Regions from separate parts of the Homo sapiens genome. Here regions 2 and 3 are each reported to be linked to region 1. Evidence: microRNA targets listed by miRTarBase, many of them from high-throughput screens and not tested one by one. Region 1 holds a microRNA gene; each other region holds the end of a gene's coding sequence. Distances are between the middles of the regions.
What was found. Region 1 holds the annotated microRNA hsa-miR-3922-5p (UCAAGGCCAGAGGUCCCACAGCA, at 995-1,017, opposite strand). A microRNA usually pairs through its seed, bases 2 to 8, with sites in the 3' UTR of a target mRNA and lowers its output. Matches are read on the target gene's strand: a 7mer-m8 pairs with bases 2 to 8, a 7mer-A1 pairs with bases 2 to 7 and ends in A, and an 8mer does both.

Region 1 (3,076 bases):
AAAACTGATTCTGACTGAGCAAGAGAAATGGCAGGACGCAAAGTGCTATAATCTGGATGTTTGTGTCCCCACTAAAATTCATGTTAAAATATTAACCCCCAAGATAATCATTTTAGAGGGTGGGGACTTTGGAAGGTGATTTGGTCATGGGGGTAGAGCCCTCTTAAATGGAATTAGTGCCCTTATAAAAGACGTCCCAAAAAAGACCACTTACCCCCTCCACCATGTGAGGACATAGCAAGAAGGGACTGTCTATGAACCAGAAAGCAGGGCCTCACCAGACACCAAATCTGCCAATGCTTTGGTCTTGGACTTCCCAGCCTCCAGAACTGTGAGGAATAAATTTCTGTTGTGTATAAGCCACCCAGTTTATGGTATTTTGTTGTAGCACCCTGAACAGATTAAGACACAAACCTCAAACATAATCCTCCTGGCCAGTGGGGTATGCTGCCCACCCACTGAGAGCATGAGAGACGGGAAGGGAGAAGAGAGAAAGGGAGAGTAAGGGAGAGAAGGGGAAGGGAGGAGAGGAGATGGGAGGGGAGAGGAGGGGAGAAGAGGGGAGGGGAGGGGAGGAGGTGCCAGGTATTAAAAGATTAAACCACCTCATCCCTAACCCCATTTTGCAGGTAAAGAAATGGACGTGCAGGATAGAAGGTGATCTGTCCAAGGACACACTGCTGGCTATAGGCCGAGTTGCAGCTAAAATGAAGATCTCCTGATTCCTGGCCTCATCCCTTTCTCTTTTTGCATGTGATTTACATACAAATATATATAGAAAACCGAGACAAGTTTTATTTTAAAAGTACTATCCTTACTATGTGTGACAAACTAACATTTTCTATTGTTCTTTTATGAACTACTAGTCACAACTCATTAAATCCATTTTACAACACACCCGTGGGTCATGGTGCATGCTTTGAAAACGTCTGACTCAGATATCTGGAAAGAGTCAAGTCAAGGCCAGAAGTCCCACAGGTGTGCTTTCCAGCCCTGCTGTGGGACCTCTGGCCTTGACTTGACTCTTCCTTTAAGTTCAATTTGAGGGTGCTTATGAATGGAATATGTTAAACATTGATAAAGAGAACTCATGGCTTCCACAGCTAAAATTTCCCTCCCACAATGTTCACCATCACAGTGGATGCCACCATCATGCCCCTAGCTGTGACCAAACAGTGAGGAATTTTCTTAAATTCCCTTTTCTGTCTGCTATGCCCCACCCATCAGCATGTCTCTGTCCTCACCGCCCTGGTACAAGCCATCATCGCCTTCCCCTTGGGCTATGACAAAAACCTCTTAACTGGTATCCCTGCTGCCACCCTGGCCTCCCTACTCTATTCTCTACCAGCGGCCAGAATAATCTTCTAGAAACGTAAATCAGATCATAACAGCCTTCCTGCTCCAAAGACCTGCCACCATCTTAGAACAAAATCCAAAGTCTTTCCACGGCCCAGAGGCCCCCCATGATATAGCCCCGCCTGCCTCTGCCCCTCCTCCACCATACTGGTCATCTTGCTCTTTCTCCAAAAAACCAAGCATGAGCCTCAGGGCCTTTGCACTCACTGCTCTGTCAGCCTGGAGTCCCTCTCCCAACACCAACAACTGTTCTCTTCTTTACTCTGCCCTCTGACCGCATCATCAGGTCCCCAGAGAGAGCTTCCCTGGACACACTGTCTCCCATGGCCTCACTTCCTCTCTCTCCTGTTCCTCCCATTCTTTGCTATATTCTTTTTTTTTTTTAAGACAGGGTCTCGTTCTCTCACCCAGGCTGGAGTAAAGTGGTGCGATATTGGCTCACTGCAACCCCCACCTCCCATGTTCGAGCAATTCTTGTGCCTCAGCCTCCCAAGTAGCTGGGATTACAGGCGTGTGCCACCATGTCCAGCTAATTTTTGGCATTTTTAAGTACACAGGGTTTCACCATGTTGGCCAGGCTGGTCTTGAACTCCTGGCTTCAAGTGATCTGCCCGCCTCAGTCTCCCAAAGTGCTGGGATTACAGGCATGAGCCACTGCGCCCCGCCTGCCATATGCTTCTTCAAGGCATTGATTCTCTCCTGTCTTTTTATCTTAAATGCTTTATTGGCTGTTGTCTGTTGCCACCACGAGACCCTAAGTTTCATGAGCAAAAGGACTTGGACTGTCTTGTCTATCACAATATCCTCGGTTCCTAAAAGGGGCCTAAATTCAGGGCTGAATGAATAAATGAATGAATGGAAGTGCCTTTCCCAAAAGACAGGAAACTAAACCGTTTTGAAATACAGTCACCCCAGTCCAAGGTCTTCTAAACTTTCCTGATAAGAGTCATCCGAGGTACTTATTTAAAAAACATATATTCCCAGCCCTTCTGAATCAGATTCTCCTACAAAGGGGCCTGGGAAGCTTCAAGCTTGATGAGCACCCCAGGGGATTTGTATCTTGGAAGAGTCTGGGGATGCTGGATCAGCTAGACATGAGGAACAGGTGCGCACATAGACAGCGCACGTGCAGGCCATCTGGAGAAGAGGAGGGGGAGAAACTGTGCCAGATGGGGCCAACGAGGCCAGGGGCCTGGGTGTAGGTACTTACAAGGGTCATGCGGCACCTAATAGCCAAGGGACGGGCCAGCTAGGGTGAGGCATCTTCATTTATTTATTTATTTATTTATTTAATTTTGAGACAGAGTCTCGCTTTGTTGCCCAGGCTGGAGTGCAGTGGCGCCATCTTGGCTCACTGCAGCCTCCTCCTCCCGGATTCAAGCAATTCTCCTGCCTCAGCCTCCCGAGTAGCTGGGATTACAGGCATGTGCCACCACGCCCAGCTAATTTTTGTATTTTCGTAGAGACGGGGTTTCACCATGTTGACCACGCTGGTCTTGAACTCCTGACCTCAGGTGATCCGCCTGCCTCAGCCTCCCAAAGTGCTGGGAACTTTAAGTCATCCCAGAAAAGGATTTGAGGCCAAACCGAAAAAGCATTCATTTGATTCTGTAGTCAAACCAGAACCCTTGAATAAGTTCTTCAAGGCAAGAAATAATACAACTGCAGTTTTGCTTTTTTGTTATTGTGATAAAATACACATAACATAAAATTTACCATT
Region 2 (3,076 bases), 97 Mb from region 1:
GCCTGGGGAAGCGGGGTTCTGTAGGGTCAAGACTGTGGAGCACACACGGTGAGGACTCCTGAGGAGGGGCAGGCCTGGGTGGAGGCTGTTCGCAGAGCTGCAGTGAGCCGGAGGGAGAGAGGTTCAGGCAGGGAAGGGGGTACACAGGGGTTAAGGGGACCGAGGGAAGTGTGGTCCCTGAAAGAGAGGCTGGGATGTGTGCAGGCCATTGATCCCTTCTCCTCTCTGTTCCTGCCCTCCAGTCCTACCAGAATCGGCAGTCCTGTGTGACGGGGGCTGTTGGGGGCCAGCAGGAGGATGAGGACAGCAGTGACTCGGAGGTGGCCGATTCCCCCAGCAGCGACGAGAGACGCATCATCGAGACCCCCCCACACCGCTACTAAGGCCTACACCTCTCCCCACGCAGAGGGGGAATTCTGCCCTGGTGAAACAGACACTCCAGACATGGGAGAAGGACTTTCTGGGAACACAGAGACCAAGAGGGAGAGAGGCTTCAGAACCAGTCCTCCTTTCATTTCAAAACCCCAGCGGGCCCTCTGGAGTCCGCCCTGCCCCTCCCCCGGCCCCCCATCCCTCACTTCTGGGCTGTCATGCTCCTGGTGTGCCCCTTGCACTGGGGCTGGCTGGGTTGGAAAGTGGGCTGGACTTCAGCTGCCTTTCTACCCCCAATGGCAGCTGCCCCCTTAGCACTCACTGTGTTGGGGAGAGGGTGACGATTGCAATGGCTGGGGCTGGGGCTGGGGGTGGGATTGAAGGAAACCCTCTCCTCTCCCCTTCCCTTCTCTCTCCTGTCCATGGGAAGCTTTTCCCCCTCTGCAGGGCTCCCTCAGCTGGACCATCGTCCCTGCTTCTCTTATGATCGCCCCACCTCATTTCCATTTCAGTCTGGGGACCCCATTTCTCCCTCCTTTCCAACTTCCTTCCTTTCTTGTCCTGTTTCCCTTCCTGCCCTTGCAGTCCTGAGGTCCTGCAGCCCCGGCCCCTCCTCCGTGACCTGGTGTGGCCAGGCTGCGGGGACGGGAGGGGACGTGGGGGCCCCGGGTGTACATATATAATGTATATTTTTTCAATGTTGTCGTGAGTGCAGCCCATGTTCCTGCGTGCAGCTCACGGCCTTGTGTGTATGTGTGTGTGTGTGTGTGTGTGAGGCATCGTCATGTCCTGGGGCAGGGGCGGGGGGTTGGGTGTGGTGAGGGAGGGGACATATCCTAGGGTTTTCAAATAAAACAATCAGAAAAAAAAAAAAAGCTCTGTGAGGCGCCTCCTGACTGCCTGGTCCTGTGTGGGTGTGGTGGAGGCTCTGGGGCCTCAGGGGCTGTTTGGGTCTCTGCACAGAGCTGAAGTGAGGTGGGCAGGGCTGGTGATCTTGGGGGCCTGACCAGGTAAGTCCCCAGGATGCCAGATCACCTGGAAAGTAAGCTGGGGGCAGATGGTTCCCACGCCTCCCTTCCTTCAGCACCCCCTGGAAAAGTACAGAAGATTCAGGGAATGCTATGGACACCTGGGCAGATGCCCAGTGCCTTGCAGGGGTGCTGCCAACCCCGCCCCACAACTTGGAACATTTTGCCTGTGCACATGGGCTCCCTGCTGGGCGGCCCCAGGGAGAAGGCAGGCAACCCTGCTGTTTGTACCAAAGGGATCTGGAGACTGTTCCCAGGCTGACCCTTTCCTGCTAGCCAAGGCTCAGACCCAGGGGATGTCTGCCTGCCTTGCCCATGTCCTTGTGGCTGCCTCACATGGCTGCTTAGTGGCCTCCGCCCTCTCCACTCGGGCCCAGCCCCTGGCCTGACAGCAGGCAGAGTCTGGCCCTTCTGCAGCCTTTTGGGCCACTAGTTCTCTGACCCAGGTCTTACTTAAGCCCCAGGTGATAAAGGATGATAACCCCAAGGGGTTATTTCAGAAGAGTGAACTGCTGGTGGGAGCATCCCTCTGGTGCTGTCCTGGCCCAAGAAATACCAGGGATCCAAGTCTTAGTTCCTTCCTGCAGCATGACAGAGTAGGGCATCCTTAGGCTCTTCCTGGTTCTCTGCGGCTGCCTGTAGCACAGTTGGGGTGGAGGTGGGTGCTCCGCCTGACGCCCGTTCTGACATCCACCGGGTGCCTTGTCCTTGCCCATGGCCGCAAACTCCCAGTTGCATGTTGATGCCTCCATATTTTTATCTCCCACCTGAATCTCTCTCCTAACTCACATTTGCAACTACCTATTGGCATATCCACCTGCCCTTCCTGTGCCTCAGACTCCACCTTTCCCCGACTTCTCTGTGACCTATCCCTATCACCTTTCACCCATTCGCCTATGCCAGAAATCTGAGAGTCAGTCTAGATTCCTCCCTCTCCCTCAACCCCATGGCCAAATGGTGATGAAACCCTGTCGTTCTTACCCCTTAAAAATCTCTCCAATAGGTCTTTTGCTTTCTATTCCCCTTATTGCTGCCGCCGCCTTGACCTGTACCCTCTGTGTTTTTGCCTGGTCTGTGGCAAGAGCCTCCCACCTGCCTCCCACCTGCCTCCCACCTGTCCTCCCACCTGTCCTCCCACCTCTCCTCCCACCTGCCTCCCACCTGTCCTCCCGCCTGCCTCCCACCTGCCTCCCACCTCTCCTCCCACCTGCCTCCCACCTGTCCTCCCACCTGCCTCCCACCTGCCTCCCACCTGCCTCGCACCTGCCTTCCACCTGTCCTCGTCTCCTATGCCTTGCTCTACTCCACCCCGTCCTCAACTCTGGATCTCAGTGGCCTTTCTCAAGTGCAACTCTGGTTGGACCACTCTCCGGTAGAGCAACTTTCCTACCTCCTTGTCAGGCCTAGGTCAAGTCCTGACGCCTTAGCCCCTTAACCAGGTGGGGCAGGTCCTGCCTTCCTCCTTCTCTGGCCTCTTTGCGGCCACCACCCCTGCACCCCTGCGGTGGGGTCACAGAAATCACATATGCTTCCCACACACACCCTGCTTTCTCGCCTCTGTGTCTGCATGTACTGTTCCCTCTGCCTGGCATGTCCCTTACCCATTGTGTGCCTGGCAGTCTTCTACTATCACTGAAGACCCGGTTCAAGAGTTGCCTCTACCAGGAGTTCTGCTG
Region 3 (3,076 bases), not on the chromosome of region 1:
GGGAGCAAATATTCGGGTTGTGTTGCTAAGAGTCGCAGGAACTACTGCTAGTGATACTAGGCTTGCTGCAGGAGGATGTCACGCTGAGAAAGGGAGATGACTAGGAGCAGAAAAAGTACTCTCACTGTTCCAGCTTCCAGCCCAATCCTAGCAGAATGAATGCATTTTAAAACCAGTCCACATTCACATGTGCTGAGAAGGTTGTTAGTGGTCCCTCATCTGGGCAAAGCAGACCCAAGGTGGTGCTGAGTGCAGAGTGCAGAGCATTCTTGTGCTCTCCTCTCATGGCTGGAACTATCTGGGCTTTGCGCCCTGGTCCAGTGCTACGTATCAACCCCCTCAACATGCCTGTGGCTCTGACACGGGGGGATGAATTAACTTGCCTCTGTTCAAATATACAGACTTGGTGAGGCTGTCTTTTGTTAGTACTGATGCACAGGGACAGAAAAAGCCTGCAACTTTCAGTTGGGAGAATCCTATAAAAGCTGTGAGCAGCAATAATTTGCAGTATTGATCATAGGAAGGGAAAAAACATTCTCTTTCCTATTAGAGCCCCATAACAGAGGTGACATCTGTCCCAAGGCCATTCCATGGAAAATGGTGGCTGCTGGCAATTAGTGAGGCTAGTCCAGAAGCAAGCCTCCTTCTGATATTGGTCACTGAAAACAGCTCACTATAAACGGGGTGTTTTGTGGCATTCAACTCTGTTGTGCTACAAATAGAGAATGCAAAAAGACGGTGAAAGTAGGAGTGCATAAATAGTTTTTTTCATGGGTGCCAGACAGGCTAAGGCTTTCATATAAAAATATTCCTCACTTTCCTCGTCCTGTTTAGGAAGCAGTCCAGTTGGCATACCACGAATAGGTCACACATAGGAAATGGCCTATTTTGACCAACTGGATTTGTAATTTTCCAAACCGGATTCTGTCCAGCACTGTTCTACACTAATGGAAATTTTCCTCCTCATGCCCAGCCATCTGAACCAAGGACAGGTTCCTTCTCCTAAGAGGACAGAGGTTGGATTCCAGAAAAAAATCCTGGAGTCATGCCAAGAGCAGAGTAGCAAAGCTCCCTCCATCCATTCTCCATGTCACGCAGACTGTATTCCTAATGAAAAACTTCCCCCACTCACACCTGTGGGATGGAGTGGAGCAAAGCAGTTGACGAGGAATTGAGGCAGGCGCTCCTAAGATGGAGGGAGGCGGAGAGCAGGGCTGTGGAAAAGAATTTTCCATCTGACCTGCTACTTTCCATAGCTAATTTATACAATATTCACAAATCTTAATGGACTTTGAGTCATTTCTAGAAAAGTTGGACAGAAAGAGCCAAAGAGCAGCATGCGTTTCTCTCCTATAAAGACACTTTCACTTTCAGTTTCGGAAGTCCAAATACTGAGGCACACACCAACGGTGGACAGCCCTGCAGGAGCTTCCTGAAACTATCTACAATTCCAAGTGGATCACCAGCTTCAGAATTACACAGGGATCTTATTTGGGATAAAGTGTTAAAAAGTGAATGACAGGCTTTTTTTTTTTTTTTTTTTTTTTTCTGAAGTAGAAAGAGAGATAGGGCAAGAGAGAGAAGAGATGGAAGGAGGGGGAGAGGCCAAAGGGTCGGCATTCCCTTCATCCAGCCGGGCCAGAAGTATGGGCCATTCTCAAAAAGCCACTGCTCTTTGGAGCCACTCGAGAGGTTCACAGTGGCTCCCTTCTGAGGCAGTGGCAGTGGGCTCACAGCAGCTACACTGGAACCACAGTGCACATGTGGGGATGTGGGCAGCCTCCTGGATCACTCAGGGACAGTGTGGACTCAGGGCCCACTCCCTGCTGGGGCTCTGGACGGGCCTTACTGGTGCATAGGAGAGGGAAATGATAAGAGGAAATGGCTTCTGACTAGGCCTTTCCAAGCGCATCTCATGTTTTCAGCTTAGATGATTTGATAGCAGGTGTTGTAATCCTGAGGGGGAAATGGGTGACGAGGAACACTGCTACTCAAAGCCAAGATGGCCTTATCAAAGGCATACAACATGAGCCTTGTGGGCACTGCCTCACCAACCACTGGTGGCTGGTTGTGCTGGTTTTACTTGGCTCAAGGGCTGCTGGGAAGGTTTGCTGCGACAAAGGCCTGCATGGCCTACAGAGAAACCCATCCATCCGCAGGTGGGGGTGTGGCTTGAAAGACCTGCTCTTAGTTCCCTTCTTTACCCTCCTGCTTGACATGGAGATGAGGCTCCAGGAGAGAGAGTGTAATGGAGTTAGTAAGAGACCCTCATGAAGTTTCTTGAGGCAAACCCGCAGGCTCATCCACTCCTCTTCTCTCGGCAGGGGGTAGTGTCAAAGTGCTTTGGTTGTCACAAGACCCAGACACCTAGGTTCCCAGTTTGGCTGGCCCAAGAGTTCTTCATGAGGCAAAAGAAGTGGCAGCTGGTGTCCTAGGTAGAGAGCAGCCATACAGACACCACATGTGTTCCTCCTGGCTCCACACAGACGTCGTGTCCAGCAACAGTCTGATCCTTGCGGTAAGCTATACAATGTTCTCTGCCCCAGGAAGGGGCCCCTGAGGGGGTCCACGGTCCTGCTTACTGTGCAACTGGGCCAGCTGTAGAACTGGCATGTTGCACAGGGGACACACTTTACGAACCTCCAGCCACTTAATAAGGCACCTGCAGAAGGAGACACCACAGGGGGAAGATGTCAGTCCTATGCTCATGGCACGGCTGTTCTGCTGAACATCTCCATATCTGTCACCCAGACAACGTCTGCTGTATGGTCCAAGGAGCTCCCCTCCTAGGTGGTGAACGGATGTCACCCCCTGGAGAGAGGGAAGAGACAGAGAGAAGGAGTGGGGAGAGGCCAAGGGGTCAGCAATCCCCTCTTCCTTCCAGAGCCTCCCATCTTCCACGTGTGAAGCCACAGATAGTATGTGATACTCTCAGTTACCCATGACTTCTTACAAGAACAAAATACACTGAGCAGGGATGTGAGAAGTAGGAAAATAAATTTTTCTAACAGAAATACAAAACAAAAAATTATAAGAGGAAGAATATTAATATGTCTGCAGGAAGTGGGAGGAGAGT

Region 2: the mRNA of CLSTN3 is a reported target of hsa-miR-3922-5p. Seed matches in the 3' UTR shown: 7mer-m8 at 1,112-1,118.
Region 3: the mRNA of RNF24 is a reported target of hsa-miR-3922-5p. Seed matches in the 3' UTR shown: 7mer-m8 at 579-585.

What each region holds. Positions count from the first base shown.
Region 1 is chr12:104,589,586-104,592,661 of GRCh38, reverse strand. MIR3922 (microRNA 3922) reads right to left here and starts at 1,029; the gene lies at 946-1,029. The region is part of intron 1 of CHST11 (carbohydrate sulfotransferase 11); the gene reads right to left.
Region 2 is chr12:7,157,699-7,160,774 of GRCh38, forward strand. It overlaps CLSTN3 (calsyntenin 3), which reads left to right. Exons shown (of 18, transcript NM_014718.4): 18 at 243-1,247. The coding sequence ends at 383. Among named protein-coding and RNA genes, the nearest start is that of CLSTN3, 29 kb to the left of the region's middle.
Region 3 is chr20:3,931,540-3,934,615 of GRCh38, forward strand. It overlaps RNF24 (ring finger protein 24), which reads right to left. Exons shown (of 6, transcript NM_001134337.3): 6 at 1-2,662. The coding sequence ends at 2,524. Among named protein-coding and RNA genes, the nearest start is that of MIR103B2, 16 kb to the left of the region's middle.